Linked DNA regions of Homo sapiens. The protein of the gene in region 3 interacts with the protein of the main gene of each other region in a pairwise test. Each region holds a gene or a part of one and is shown on either strand. Other genes may lie near its edges.

What was found. Proteins that work in one complex are often made in the same cells at the same time.
Region 1: the proteins of FTO (region 3) and USP20 interact in binary tests that used the Homo sapiens proteins (3 or more experiments, as listed by UniProt).
Region 2: the proteins of FTO (region 3) and SHC3 interact in binary tests that used the Homo sapiens proteins (3 or more experiments, as listed by UniProt).

The regions. Positions count from the first base shown.
Region 1 is NC_000009.12:129,841,958-129,845,457, reverse strand, and holds part of USP20 (ubiquitin carboxyl-terminal hydrolase 20), read right to left. Parts: intron 1-3,500.
Region 2 is NC_000009.12:89,042,819-89,046,318, forward strand, and holds part of SHC3 (SHC-transforming protein 3), read right to left. Parts: intron 3,016-3,500; coding exon 2,928-3,015; intron 1-2,927. UniProt on the Homo sapiens protein: Signaling adapter that couples activated growth factor receptors to signaling pathway in neurons. Involved in the signal transduction pathways of neurotrophin-activated Trk receptors in cortical neurons.
Region 3 is NC_000016.10:53,828,724-53,834,302, reverse strand, and holds part of FTO (alpha-ketoglutarate-dependent dioxygenase FTO), read right to left. Parts: intron 1-5,579.

The sequences.
Region 1 (3,500 bases), on a different chromosome or scaffold from region 3:
TTTTCTTTTGCCTGTTAAACCTCTGCTCCTAAAAACAAAAACAAACCAAAAAAAATACCTAAATCGGTTACTGTTAATGGTTTTTCAAGTTTCCAAAATAAGAAAATAAGAAGAGTGTGCATCTGGCTTCCTAGGTATGTTGCTCTTCCCCAAACTCCTGAGGGCACCATAGGGGACAGAGCCTCTGTTCCCTGGAGCTCTCCAGGCCCCTGTGCCAGGCACTGCCCTGAGCCTACACAGGGTGGTTTTCAGAGAAGGGGTGGGAGCATCTGAGTGGTCCCAGAAGTCCCCAAAGCTGCTACCTGGATGGCTCCTAAGCACACTTCTCCAGGTGACTCACAGGGGCCAAGAAGTGCCCTCAACATGTGTTTTTTGTATTTTTATCTATTTATTTATTTAGAGACCAGGTTATGAGACTGGCTAATTTTTGTATTTTTGGTAGAGACAGGGTTTTGCCGTGTTGCCCAAGCTGGTCTTGAACTCCTGGGCTTAAGTGATCTGCCCACCTCCACCTCCCAAAGTGCTGGGATTACACACATGAGCCACCATGACCGGCCCTCTCAATATTCATTTTTGCCTCATTTACCTCCATGTTGTATTCAAATTTTTCATCTTCTCCTACTTGTCCTGAAAATTTTAAAGGCATTTTTGTCTGGTTTTCATAAATTTGATATATACCTTCATAGAAGCTGGAAACAGACACAGACATAAAATGAAATAAAAATCACCTGTAATCCTGCTGTACAGGAAAAAAAATATGGTTACCTTTTTGGTTTTGGTAAGTCTTATTTACATGTACGAATATATAATTTTTTTTTTTTTTTTTTTTTTTTTGAGACAGAGTCGCGCTCTGTCACCCAGGCTGGAGTGCAGTGGTGCGATCTCGACTGAACACACTCTCCACTTCAGGTTCAAGCCATCCTACCACCTCAGCCTCCCGAGTAGCTGGGATTACAGGCACACACTCCCACGCCTGGCTAATTTTTGTATTTTTTGTAGATATGGGGTTTCGTCATGTTGCCCAAGCTGGTCTCAAACTCCAGAGCTCAACCAATCCATCTGCCTGGGCCTCCCAAAGTGCTGGGATTACAGGCGTGAGCCACCATGCCCAACCAGATATATAAATTTTAAAAATAAACTGCAATATAACCAATAAATTTGTATACAGCTTTTTTTGGTTTATATATTTCTAATGTCACTAAATTTCTTTTCAGCTTCATTTCTAATAGGTGAATAATATTATACCACATATAATTTAAGCTATACAACCCCTTACTGAATTATTTATCCATCATAGGACGTGGTATTTTTGTATTTTGTGTATGTGTGTTTTGCCATTATAAAGAAGGCACTGAGAAACATTTTGGAATATGAATCTTTTGTTTTGCTTAAAGACAAGTCTCAATCTGTCACCCAGGCTGGAGTGCAATGGTGTGATCATGGTTCACTGCAGCCTCTACCTCCCTGGGCTCAGGTGATCCTCCTACCTCAGCCCCCCAAGTAGCTAGGACTACAGGCATGCACTACCAAGCCTGGCTACTTTTTAATTTTTCTTTTATAGAGACAGAGTTTTGCCATGATGCCCAGATTGGTCTGGAACTCCTGGGTTCAAGCAATCTGCCTGCCTTGGACTCCCAAAGTACTGGAACTACAGGTGTGAGCCACCAGGAATGTGAAACTTTGACTAAATCTTTTTGTTTTGTTTTGTTTTGTTTTTTTGAGATGGAGTTTTCACTCTTGTTACCCAGGCTGGAGTGCAGTGGTGTGATCTCGGCTCACTGCAACCTCCACCTCCTGGGTTCAAGCAATTCTGCTGCCTCAGCCTCCCAAGTAGCTGGGATTACAAGCACACACCACCACGCCCAGCTAATCTTTTTGGATTTTTAGTAGAGATGAGGTTTCACCACATTGGTCAGGCTGGTCTTGAACTCCTGATCTCAGGTGATCCGCCTGCCTCAGCTTCTCAAGTGCTGGGATTACAGGCGTGAGTCACTGCGACCAGACTGTCTTTTTGTTGTTGTCGTGGTTGAGACAGAGTCTTAGTCTGTTGCCTAGGCTGGACTGCAGTGGCGTGATCTCTGCTCACTGCAACCTCCGCCTCCTGGGTTCAAGCGTTTCTCTTGCCTCAGCCTCTAGAGTAGCTGGGATTACAGGAATCCACCATCACACCCACATAATTTTTGTATTTTTAGTAGAGACGAGGTTTCACCACGTTGGCCAGGGTGGTCTCGAACTCCTGACCTCAAGTGATCTGTCCACTGCGGCCTCCCAAAGTGCTGGGAGTACAGGTGTACGCCACCATGCCCGGCCTACATCTTTGACCAAAAAAAAAAAAAAAAATTATTGGTCAAAATGTGTGCTTTGAAGGCTCTACATAGATATTGATAAGCTTCCCTTTAGAAACAGTATATACATTTATCTGCCTATCAGCAGTATATGAGTATGTGCAACATAAAAAGTTTAAGGTTTACTAACATTTTAAAAATTAATGGTTAAAAATCATTTCTATGAAGGAAAAAGGGCGGTAGTACAGAAAACACTGGGTGCTTAATATTCCACACAAAGGGCCAGGTGCGGTGGCTCACAGCTGTAATCCCAGCACTTTGGGAGGCTAAGGAGGGTGGATCACAAGGTCAGGAGTTCGAAACCAGCCTGACCAACATGGTGAAATCCCATCTCTACTAAAAATACAAAAAATTAGCCAGGTGTGGTGGCACATGCCTGTAAGCCCAGCTACTCAGGAGGCTGAGGCAGGAGAATCGCTTGAACCCAGGAGGCAGAGGTTGCAGTGAGCCGAGATCACGCCATTGCACTCCAGCCTGGGCAACAGAGTAAGACTCCGTCTAAAAAAAAAAAAAAAAACTTCCACACACAGGACCTAAAATATCGGAAGCATGGGGGTCGACAAGAGGGTGCATATCTCAGCTGTCTGAAAGTTATCATTTTGCTTCCTTTTGGTACCCAACCAACACTGACCATGTACCTCCTTAGGAACAGTGACTTGGGGTGCTGGGAAACAGCCAGGCATAGGCCCTGCTCTTGTAGTGTACAGAGTCCCATACTTCAACCTCAGGGTACTTGCAAGCAGACACTAGGGAGGTGATAATCACCACCAGCACCTCTGTTTCCTACACTCACTGAGGGTTAGCTGCTGCACATACATTATCCCGGGAGGTAACGGTCACTATGGAAGGAAATTACAGGGACAAGTAGCCCTGGGTTCAGTACCTCACTCTGCCCCTTGCAAGTCTGTGACTTTAGATAAATCGCTCAGTCTCCACATTCATAAAATGGGGACAATGACAGCACCTAGGGTTACTGAGAAGATGAAGTGAGCCAATGCACAGTAAACGCTAAGTTGAATGACTTAGGGCCTCATGGACTTTCTGGGTGGCTCAGATTTTTTATTGATTTGCATGACAAGAATGCTCAAAAAATGTTTACTACTATAATTTGTGTCACTGGCTGTTCTATACATTAGGACACTGAAATTGGTAGGA
Region 2 (3,500 bases), on a different chromosome or scaffold from region 3:
AGGCTAGGCCAAGGCTGTTCTGTCACCGAGACCTAGTGTGAAAGACCTAGTGCCTTGACAGGACTTCACAGCTAGCCAGTGGGTGTGCTGAGGCTGGGCCCGGGCTGTTCTGTCACCCAGACCCTGGGTGAAAGTGACACCCAGACCTAGTTGCCGGAGAACGCCTGTTCAGATCCTTCTCGGAGTCTTTTTGTGTGTGCGCCCTGTCTCCAATCTTCTTACGTAAACATGTTCGCAAGAACACCCTGTGGTATTCACATTTCTGGAAAGAGGGTGTCTTTCATACCCTATGGGCGGTGGTGTGTTGAAGCCAGCTCAATCCAGCTGGCAGGAGTTGGTTCAGGGCTTTTTAAAAAGCGTTCCCAAGAGCCTGTGGCTGGACATTTGCCAGCACACCACTGTCTCCCAGGCTGTAGGTGTGAGAATGAAGTGTCGTGCTAACATTCCCTCGCTGGGGAGCACCACCTGCAACATCATGGACTGTGTTTCTACTCTCCTATTTCTCAACATGCTTTCTACATTGAAGAGTCTAGTCAGATTACGCATCCTTGCTTAGTGACAGCTATTTGCAGTTTACACCTTTGTGTACATTGCAAACGAATCAGCCTTTAGAAAAGAATTTCATTAAAAAATTTTAAAAGGAGAAGATCAAGAGCCCAAATGCATAATCTTCCTGACTGCCCTTTCCCACCATAGATGACAACAGGTGCTGAGCCGGGGCAGGAGGACACGTGCCATCGTGATACCTGGAGTTCACTTCCATTAGGGACAGTATCTGCCAGCAAATTAATAAGTGACATTCTAATTTGTTATGTGAGAAAAGATATTTATTTATTTTTTTTTTTTTTTTTGAGGCAGGGTCTCATTCTGTCACCCAGGCTGGAATGCAAGTGGCATGATCTCGGCTCACTGCAACCTCCACCTCCCAGGTTCAAGCAATTCTCCTGCCTCAGCCTCCCGAGTAGCTAGGATTACAGGTGCCCACCACCATGCACAGCTAATTTTTTGTATTTTTAGTAGAGACGAGGTTTCACCATGTTGGCCAGGCTGGCATCGAACTCCTGACCTCAGATGATCCACCCGCCTCGGCTTCCCAAAGTGCTGGAATTACAGGCGTGAGCCACCATGCCCTGCCTATTTATTGTTTTCAAAGAAGAGCTGGAAATTTATTGAGAGCTCTGAGTCTCAAGTTCCAGGCCAGGAGTTCATTCTGCGACATCATCTGTTCTCGATCTGGCTGGAATAACTTGAATATATCAAAAACAAGGCCTATTTTAAAATAAACCTGATATATTTTACAATAAAGTAAATATCTAAGGGAAATAATGTGTCTCCTTTATTCTTTAGCAGTTATTATATGTCTATGCACACACATGTTATGGAAATGCATTTTAAATGTGTGTAGAACAAGGATAAATAGCCCATAATGAAAATGTCCCTCTGGCAAAGTTATGACTCTGATTTGCTATTTCCAGCCTATTCTGAGGCAGAACATGTGGTGGCTTCTGCCAGGCCTTATGTTTTATTGACTGGGCCAGCACTGTGGGTCTTCCTGCATCTGGGGCAGGCGAGACGAAATTCTCTTACACAGAGGACATTTTAAAAATGTATTGTCATTTGCTTCCTGGCATAAATAGCTATAATGAAGGAATAAGCCTCAACATTAAACCAATAATGTTTAAATTTAGATACATAGAAGCATCAGTTGCATCCATCCCCTTCAGATCTTATAGACTTAGTAGCCAGGATCCCAGAGCTAGTGAAAGAGTTATAAATGTTTTTGAGAAGGGAAAAAGGTTAAAATTAAAAGACATTCTTAAAGGATTAGATTGAGATATGAATACATTCATACATATTTGTATGTGTATATATAACTGTCTAGAGAATAAAGACTTATGTGAGCAATTAGCAGTTACTTCTTAGATAGTTGTATCTAAATTATGATGGCTGTATCTAAATATATTTGAATTATTTGCAGATATCTGACTTATAGACAGTTATATCGACATTAGTTTTAATGTGTGATGTAGGTGCATATTATGATTGTAAGATGCAGAAGTGTTCTCTGAGAGTATCCAGGGCCTGTGAGAGACGTATATCCCTGGTGCCACCTCTGCCTCAATCCCCAGCTTAGAGTAGGGGGCTTCACATCCCCCCTGAAGCTGACCCTGAGTAAAGGGAAGGAGAACGAGACAAGGAAGGAAAGGCAACAATTTGTTGTAGGAGTCACGGGGGCTCAACCTCCACCTTAGAGTTGCCTCACCAGTTCCCATAGGAAACTGGGGTGAAGTATGCCTGAGATGTCAACTTCTCAGCACCCCTGGGCATGGAAGCTCTCCCAGCATGGAGGTGTACAGTCTCAAGGGCATGAGGCAGTGACTGCAGACGGGGTGTGAATGGTCCTGGAGCTGCAGGGAGGCACTATCTGATTGGTGCCAGGAGATGTCTGCAACACTGTTGCTTTTTTTTTTTTTTTTTTGAGATGGGGTTTTGCTGTTGTTGCCCAGGCTGGAGCGCAATGGCATCATCTTGGCTCACTGCAACCTCCACCTCCTGGGATCAAGTGATTCTCCTGCCTCAGCCTCCTGAGTAGCTGGGATTACAGGCACCCGCCACCACACCCGGCAAATTTTTTTATTTAGTAGAGTTGGGGTTTCACCATGTTAGGCTGGTCTCGAACTTCTGACCTCAGGTGATTGTCCCGCCTCAGCTTCCCAAAGTGCTGGGATTACAGGCGTGTGCCACCGCGCCTGACCACACCGTTGCTTCTATTTCTATAGTCTAGTCAGGATTCTATAGCAACACACACAGCACATATATCCAGGGGTCACTCTGTCAGTCCACAGAAAATAGGCGACCCAGTGGTGAGCATGTTACTTTTGAAAAGTGTCTTTTGTGTTTCTCACCCATCTCACCTTGCCTCTCACCTTGCCTTAAAGGTGTTTGCTGCCAGTCTTCGCCAAAAGTGTCTCCTAAGTGTCTTCCCTGGTAATAAGTCTGCTCTTTTCCTGCAAACTATAGACACATGTAAATACACAGAATGAAAAAATTATTTTCTTCTCATTTCACCACTTTTGAAAGCCACAAGACAGTCGGCGAGTTGATCCTTAAGGTGGTTCGCATCCTCTGTTACACCCAATTTTCCCTTCATGCCTCATGGTTGGCATTAAGATTTGGGAAATAAGTTTGTGTGGGTGTGAGGAAAAGGCTGCATCTCCATCAAAACTACACATGCCCCCCCGCTTGTTTTCATTACCCCCCCCACCCCTCCCGAAGTGTGACTGTAAATCAAGCTCTTCCATATGTATGTCCTAAAATAAATTTCAATTACAGAGTATCTATGTGTCAGAACACACTTCCCACATAACACATACGCCCATGATCGTTCACACTTGGTCAAGTCCACTCTGTAAACCAGGAAATTTCCTTCAAAAAATCAGGAAATTCCCTCTCAGTGTCAGATCCCTGAGCTCAACGTTATTTTGCCATTTTTAGTGGTG
Region 3 (5,579 bases):
CCTATAATCCCAGCACTTTGGGAGGCCGAGACAGGTGGATCACAAGGTCAGGAGATCAAGACCATCCTGGCTAACATGGTAAAACTCCACCTCTACTAAAAATACAAAAAATTTGCCGGGTGTGGTGGTGGGCGCCTGTAGTCCCAGCTACTCAGGGGGCTGAGACAGGAGAATGGCGTGAACCTGGGAGGTGGAGCTTGCAGGGAGCTGAGATCGCGCCACTGCACTCCAGCCTGGGTGACAGACCGAGACTCCGTCTCAAAAAAAATAAAAAAAAAAAGTTCAGCTATCCTTGAAGAAAATATTGCAAGTCATATATCTGATAAGGAATTAATATCTAGAATACATAAGGAACTCACAAAACTCAACAACTAAAAACCAGCCAAATTCAAAAATGGGCAAACAACTTGAATAGACATGTCTCCAAAGAAGATATATAAATGGCTAAGAACATGAAAAGATGTTCAACATCATTAATTATTAGGAAAATGTGTATCAAAACCACAAGGAGATACCACTTCATACCCATTATGATGGCTGTTATCAAAAAACAGGAAACAGTAAGTGTTGGCGTAGATGTGGAGAAATTAGAGCCCTTGCGCATTGCCAGCGAGAATATAAAACAGTTCAGTCGCTGTAGAAAACAGTACAGCAGTTCCTCAAAAATGTCAACATAGACCTATCATTTGATCCAGCAATCCTACGCAAAAGTACATACACAAAAGTATATACACAAAAAAAGTATACACACAAAAGTACTGAAAGCGGAGATTCCCACAGATATTTGTATACAGAGATATTTGTTCACAGCAACTTTATCCACCATAGCCAAAAGATGGCTATTATGAATAGCCGATGGATGAATCAATCAACAAAATGTGGTATATTCATACAATGGAATATTAGTCATCTTTAAAAAGGAATTAAATTCTGATACATGCCATAACATGGATGAATCTTGAGGACACTATGTTAAGTAAAATAGTTGTATTAGTTTGTTTTCATGCTGCTCATAAAGACATATCCGAAACCGGAAACAAAAAGAGGATTAATTGGACTTACAGTACCACATAGCTGAGAGGCCTCTGAATCATGGCAGGAGGCAAAAGGCACTTCTTACATGGCAGTGGCAAGAGAAAATGAGGAGGAAGCAAAAGCGGAAACCCCTGATGAACCCACCAGATCTCGTGAGACTTATTCACTATCATGAGAATAGCACGGGAAAGACCGGCCTCATGATTCAACCAGTTCCTCTTTGGTCCCTCCCACAACATGTGCGAATTCTGGGAGATACAATTCAAGTTGATATTTGCCCAGGGACACAGCTGAACCATATCAATAATCTAGACACAAAAGGTCAAATATTGTATGATTCCACTTACATGAGGTACCTAGAATAGTCAAATATAATACAGACAGAAAGCAGAACAGTGGTTACCAGGAAATGAGGGAAGGAGAAATGGGGAGTAATTGTTTAAATGGGTACAGAGATTTGGTGTGGGATGATGCTTAATGCCACTCAACTGTACAGTTAATATGGTTATAATGATTAATTTTATGTATATTTTATTGAAATAAAAAAGGATACAAGGGAATGAGCTACTGATATACATAACAACATGGATGAATCTCAAAATAACTATGCTAAGTTAAAGAATCCAGACAAAAAAACCGTGCACATATATAATTCCATCTGGTTAAAATTCTAGAAAATGCCAACTCATCTAGTGACAGAAAACAAATCCAGGCTGACACAGTGGCTCACACCTGTAATTCCAGCTCTTTGGGAGGCTGAGCAAGGAGGATCTCTTCAGGCCAGGATTTCAAGATCAGCCTGGGAAACATATTGAGACCCAGTCTCTACAAACAAATAAAAAACAATAAAAAAAGAAAACAGATATGTCAGGAAGAGGAATTGCAAAGGGGCACAAGGAAACTTCTGGAATAATGGGTATGTTCATTATCTTGATAGTGGGGATAGTTTCACAGGTGTGTTGAAACTTATAAAACTATAAATGTTCAATATGTATAGCTTATTGTATGTCAGTTATTCCCGAATAAAGCCATTCACAGAGGGGAGAAAATGTAGCCATTCTTACAGGCTTAGCCTTCTCTTGACAAATGGGAGATGCCACTGCTGGTTATCCTTTCTCACTGGTGCTGAAACACTGCCACTCTCTTTGTTGGTAAAAAGTTACAGGACTGTATTTACACATTTCTCCCCTGCTCTGCCTCTTCTGATCTGGACCATCATATCCCTAGTCTGGATTACTTTGGTCACCTCTGTGAGCTCTCCTGTTTCTGGTGTTGCTTCCCTTCTTCTACTCCTCAGTGGCTCCCCATCTCACTCCAAATCCAAACCTACTACTTTGTATTCTAACATGACAAAGCCCTACCTTCTGCCACCCATTTACTTGTCCCTTTGTCTTCATTTCATTTCCTCTTCTCTCACTCTATTCCATCCACACTTGTTGCTTCTGAAACATCCCAATCATGTTCTATCTTCCCGCCTATGTGCTCCCGCTTCAAATTTCTCAGTGGCTCATTCTCTCCGTCCAATCTGCTTAAATGTTACCCCTTTAACAAGGCCTTGCCTGGCTCTCCTACCTAAAATTGTAAGATTATCCCTCACCCTTGTTACACAATCTACTTTTATTTTCTGTTTTCCCTTGCTAGAATGTGAGCTTGATGAGGGCAGGGATTTTTGTCTGTTTTGTTCACTGATACATGCTCAGCATCTAGACAACTGACTAGCAAATAGTAGATGCTTATTGTTAAATGAAAAAATAATTGCATAGGCATGAAAAAAATGTAACTTTGTAGATCAAATAAGTTTTTTCCCCCCCTTTGGTCTTCTTGTGAGCCTTCTTGGCTCTTCATGGGAGACCTTATTGTTAGATGAATAAATAACTGGATGGTCACCCCCAAAAATGTGACTTATAAGACCAAACAAGTTTTACTGAGCAGTATAAGTGATTTCAAAAATCACTGACAAGGCATAGCATGATACAATAAAAAAAAGCTAGGTCAAATAAGCTTTGAGATTTTAGACAGGGATGCTGGGACGCTAAGATAACATTAAACATCACAGCGTTTTTATGAATACTCCAAAACTCCAAGCTGTAATTATAAACTAGCTTTTCATGGTCTCAGTGATGAGCTGAGAAATATAGAGCAAGTCATGTTAAAATAGAGATTCAAGAATTACGGGAACAAATTTCCATCCTTAAGGGGATGCAATTTTTCCCAAATCAAAGACATGAATGGAAATCCTAGAATTCCAAGAACATTATTGCAAAGTCTCTACTTTCCAGCCTATCACATGCTCAACAGGAAACATGGATCGGTTTCTTCCTTTTGTGAGCCTTCCTGGGTTTTGGATTTTTGTTTGTTTCTTTGTTTGTTTTGAGACGGAATCTCACTCTGTCGCCCGGGCTGGAGTACAGTGGCGCAATCTCAGCTCACTGCAACCTCTGCCTCCCAGGTTCAAGCAATTCTACTGCCTCAGCCTCCCGAGTAGCTGGGACTACAGGTGCGCACCACCATGCCCAGCTTATTTTTCTATTTCTAAGAGACAAGGTTTCACCATGTTGGCCAGGCTGGTCTTGAACTCCTGACCTTGTGATCCACCTGCCTTGGTCTCCCAAAGTGCTGGGATTACAGTTGTGAGCCTCCGCGCCCAGCTGCCTTCCTGGCTCCTTGTGGGAGGTCTGGAAAATAATGTCAAGAATATGCAATACTTGGCACTAGTTTAAAATCTTAAGAATTGCTTTTCTTTCTAGAAAGACAATTTCACAGAAAATGTTTCCTTCCAGACAAAGAAACAAAAATGGTAGCCAATAGTTACTGTTGATCTAAGTGATGTTTCTGAAGGTGTTCCAGTCAAAGAACAAGGTGCTGGACCATATTAAACATTGGGTTTTTAATGCCTTCCCCGCTAAAGTTCGTTTTTTATAGCTAGGAGTAACAAGCAATTGCCAGCAAAGCTGGAATAGGAAAATCAAATATTCTGCCTATTTACATATGGTTCCCCGAAGCCATTCCTGATTAAAAATTGTACCATTTCAATCTTCCTACTGGAGATATCTATTAACTAGAACGGCATGTGAAAGCCAATGAATTTAGTATATAATTACACGTATCCTATACAAATTACTTCTCAATGACCTCTACTCATGAAAATAAACCAAAGAGGGATGACTGGCTCATTATAAATCTACAAGAAGATTTCCCTGGGAAAAGGTATTGAGAGCAGAGTCTTGAAAGATCTTAAGCTTCAACTGAATTTAATTTCAGCAGGAAGCAATCACTTCTGTATCTGAATTCCCAGTGCATTTTACGTGAACCTCTCCAGTGGCAAGGAACACTTTCCAACTTAAATCCCTGCTCTTATCACTAAGTAGCAATGTGACCTTGGCCAAGCCACTTCCCTTCTCGGTGTTTTCATTTGTAAAATGAAAGGCTAGAATCAAGTGATTTCAAAAGTCTCTTTCAAACCCAATGTTTCATCATTTCATAATTATAATCACGAGAGCCCACCTATTACCTCCCTATTACCTCAAAGTGAGAAAGCCATTGATTTATCTTTGGAGTTCCCATACTGTCTAGAACAGCTCATTGACAAACAAGTTCAAGGACACAGAAAAAAATACAATTCTCTGAAGTGTCCACTCTCTATGACCTCCTTAAGCCCTTCTCAACCTCAACCAAAATTTTAAACCAAATGATTCTCTTCAAGTCCACCTTTGCCATAGTTCTGGCATTCTGCCAAGGATTATAAGACCAGAAAACTAAACAGATATCACTTGTCACTTAGAAGACATGCGCCCACCATAGAGTTTCAAGGCACATGCTTTGTACACCATCTGACCCAGAGCCACATGCTTTGTATGCCGTCTGACACACAGCCAGACACCTACAGAAAGGTTCTGTTTCATCGAATAAGATAATCTGATGCATTCCAATCATCTGAGAGTATGTGCTGGAAAGCTACAGCAGATGTGGGTGAGAAGTAAAGCTGGAGAAAGGAAGACACCAGGACCTGAAAGAAAAAGCAAGTGGAATGTCCCCTTAACCTTTCCAGAAGGTGGACATTTTAAAAATCCAAGTCCCTGGCCAGGCGCAGTGGCTCACACCTGTAATCTCAGCACTTTGGGAGACCAAGGCATGCAGATCACGAGGTCAGGAGTTTGAGACCAGCCTGGCTAGCATGGTGAAACCCCGTCTCTACTAAAATTATAAAAAATTAGCTGGGAGTAGTGGTGCATGCCTGTAATCCCAGCTACTCGGGAAGCTGAGGCAGGAGAATCACTTGAACCCAGGAGGCGGAGGTTGCAGTGAGCCGAGATCGTGCCACTGCACTCCGGCCTGGGAGATAGAGCAACACTCTGTCTCAAAAAATTAAAAAAGTAAAATAATAAAATAAAATCCCTGAGACGGCTACACTGCTGGGATAAGAAATACCTGCTCATAATGCACATAGCCTTAGGTGTTAAGATTCTGAAGCCTGGATATTTGTCCTCAAATCCTAACTCTGCTAATTACTTGCTGCATCACCATGAACAAGTTAATCAACCTTC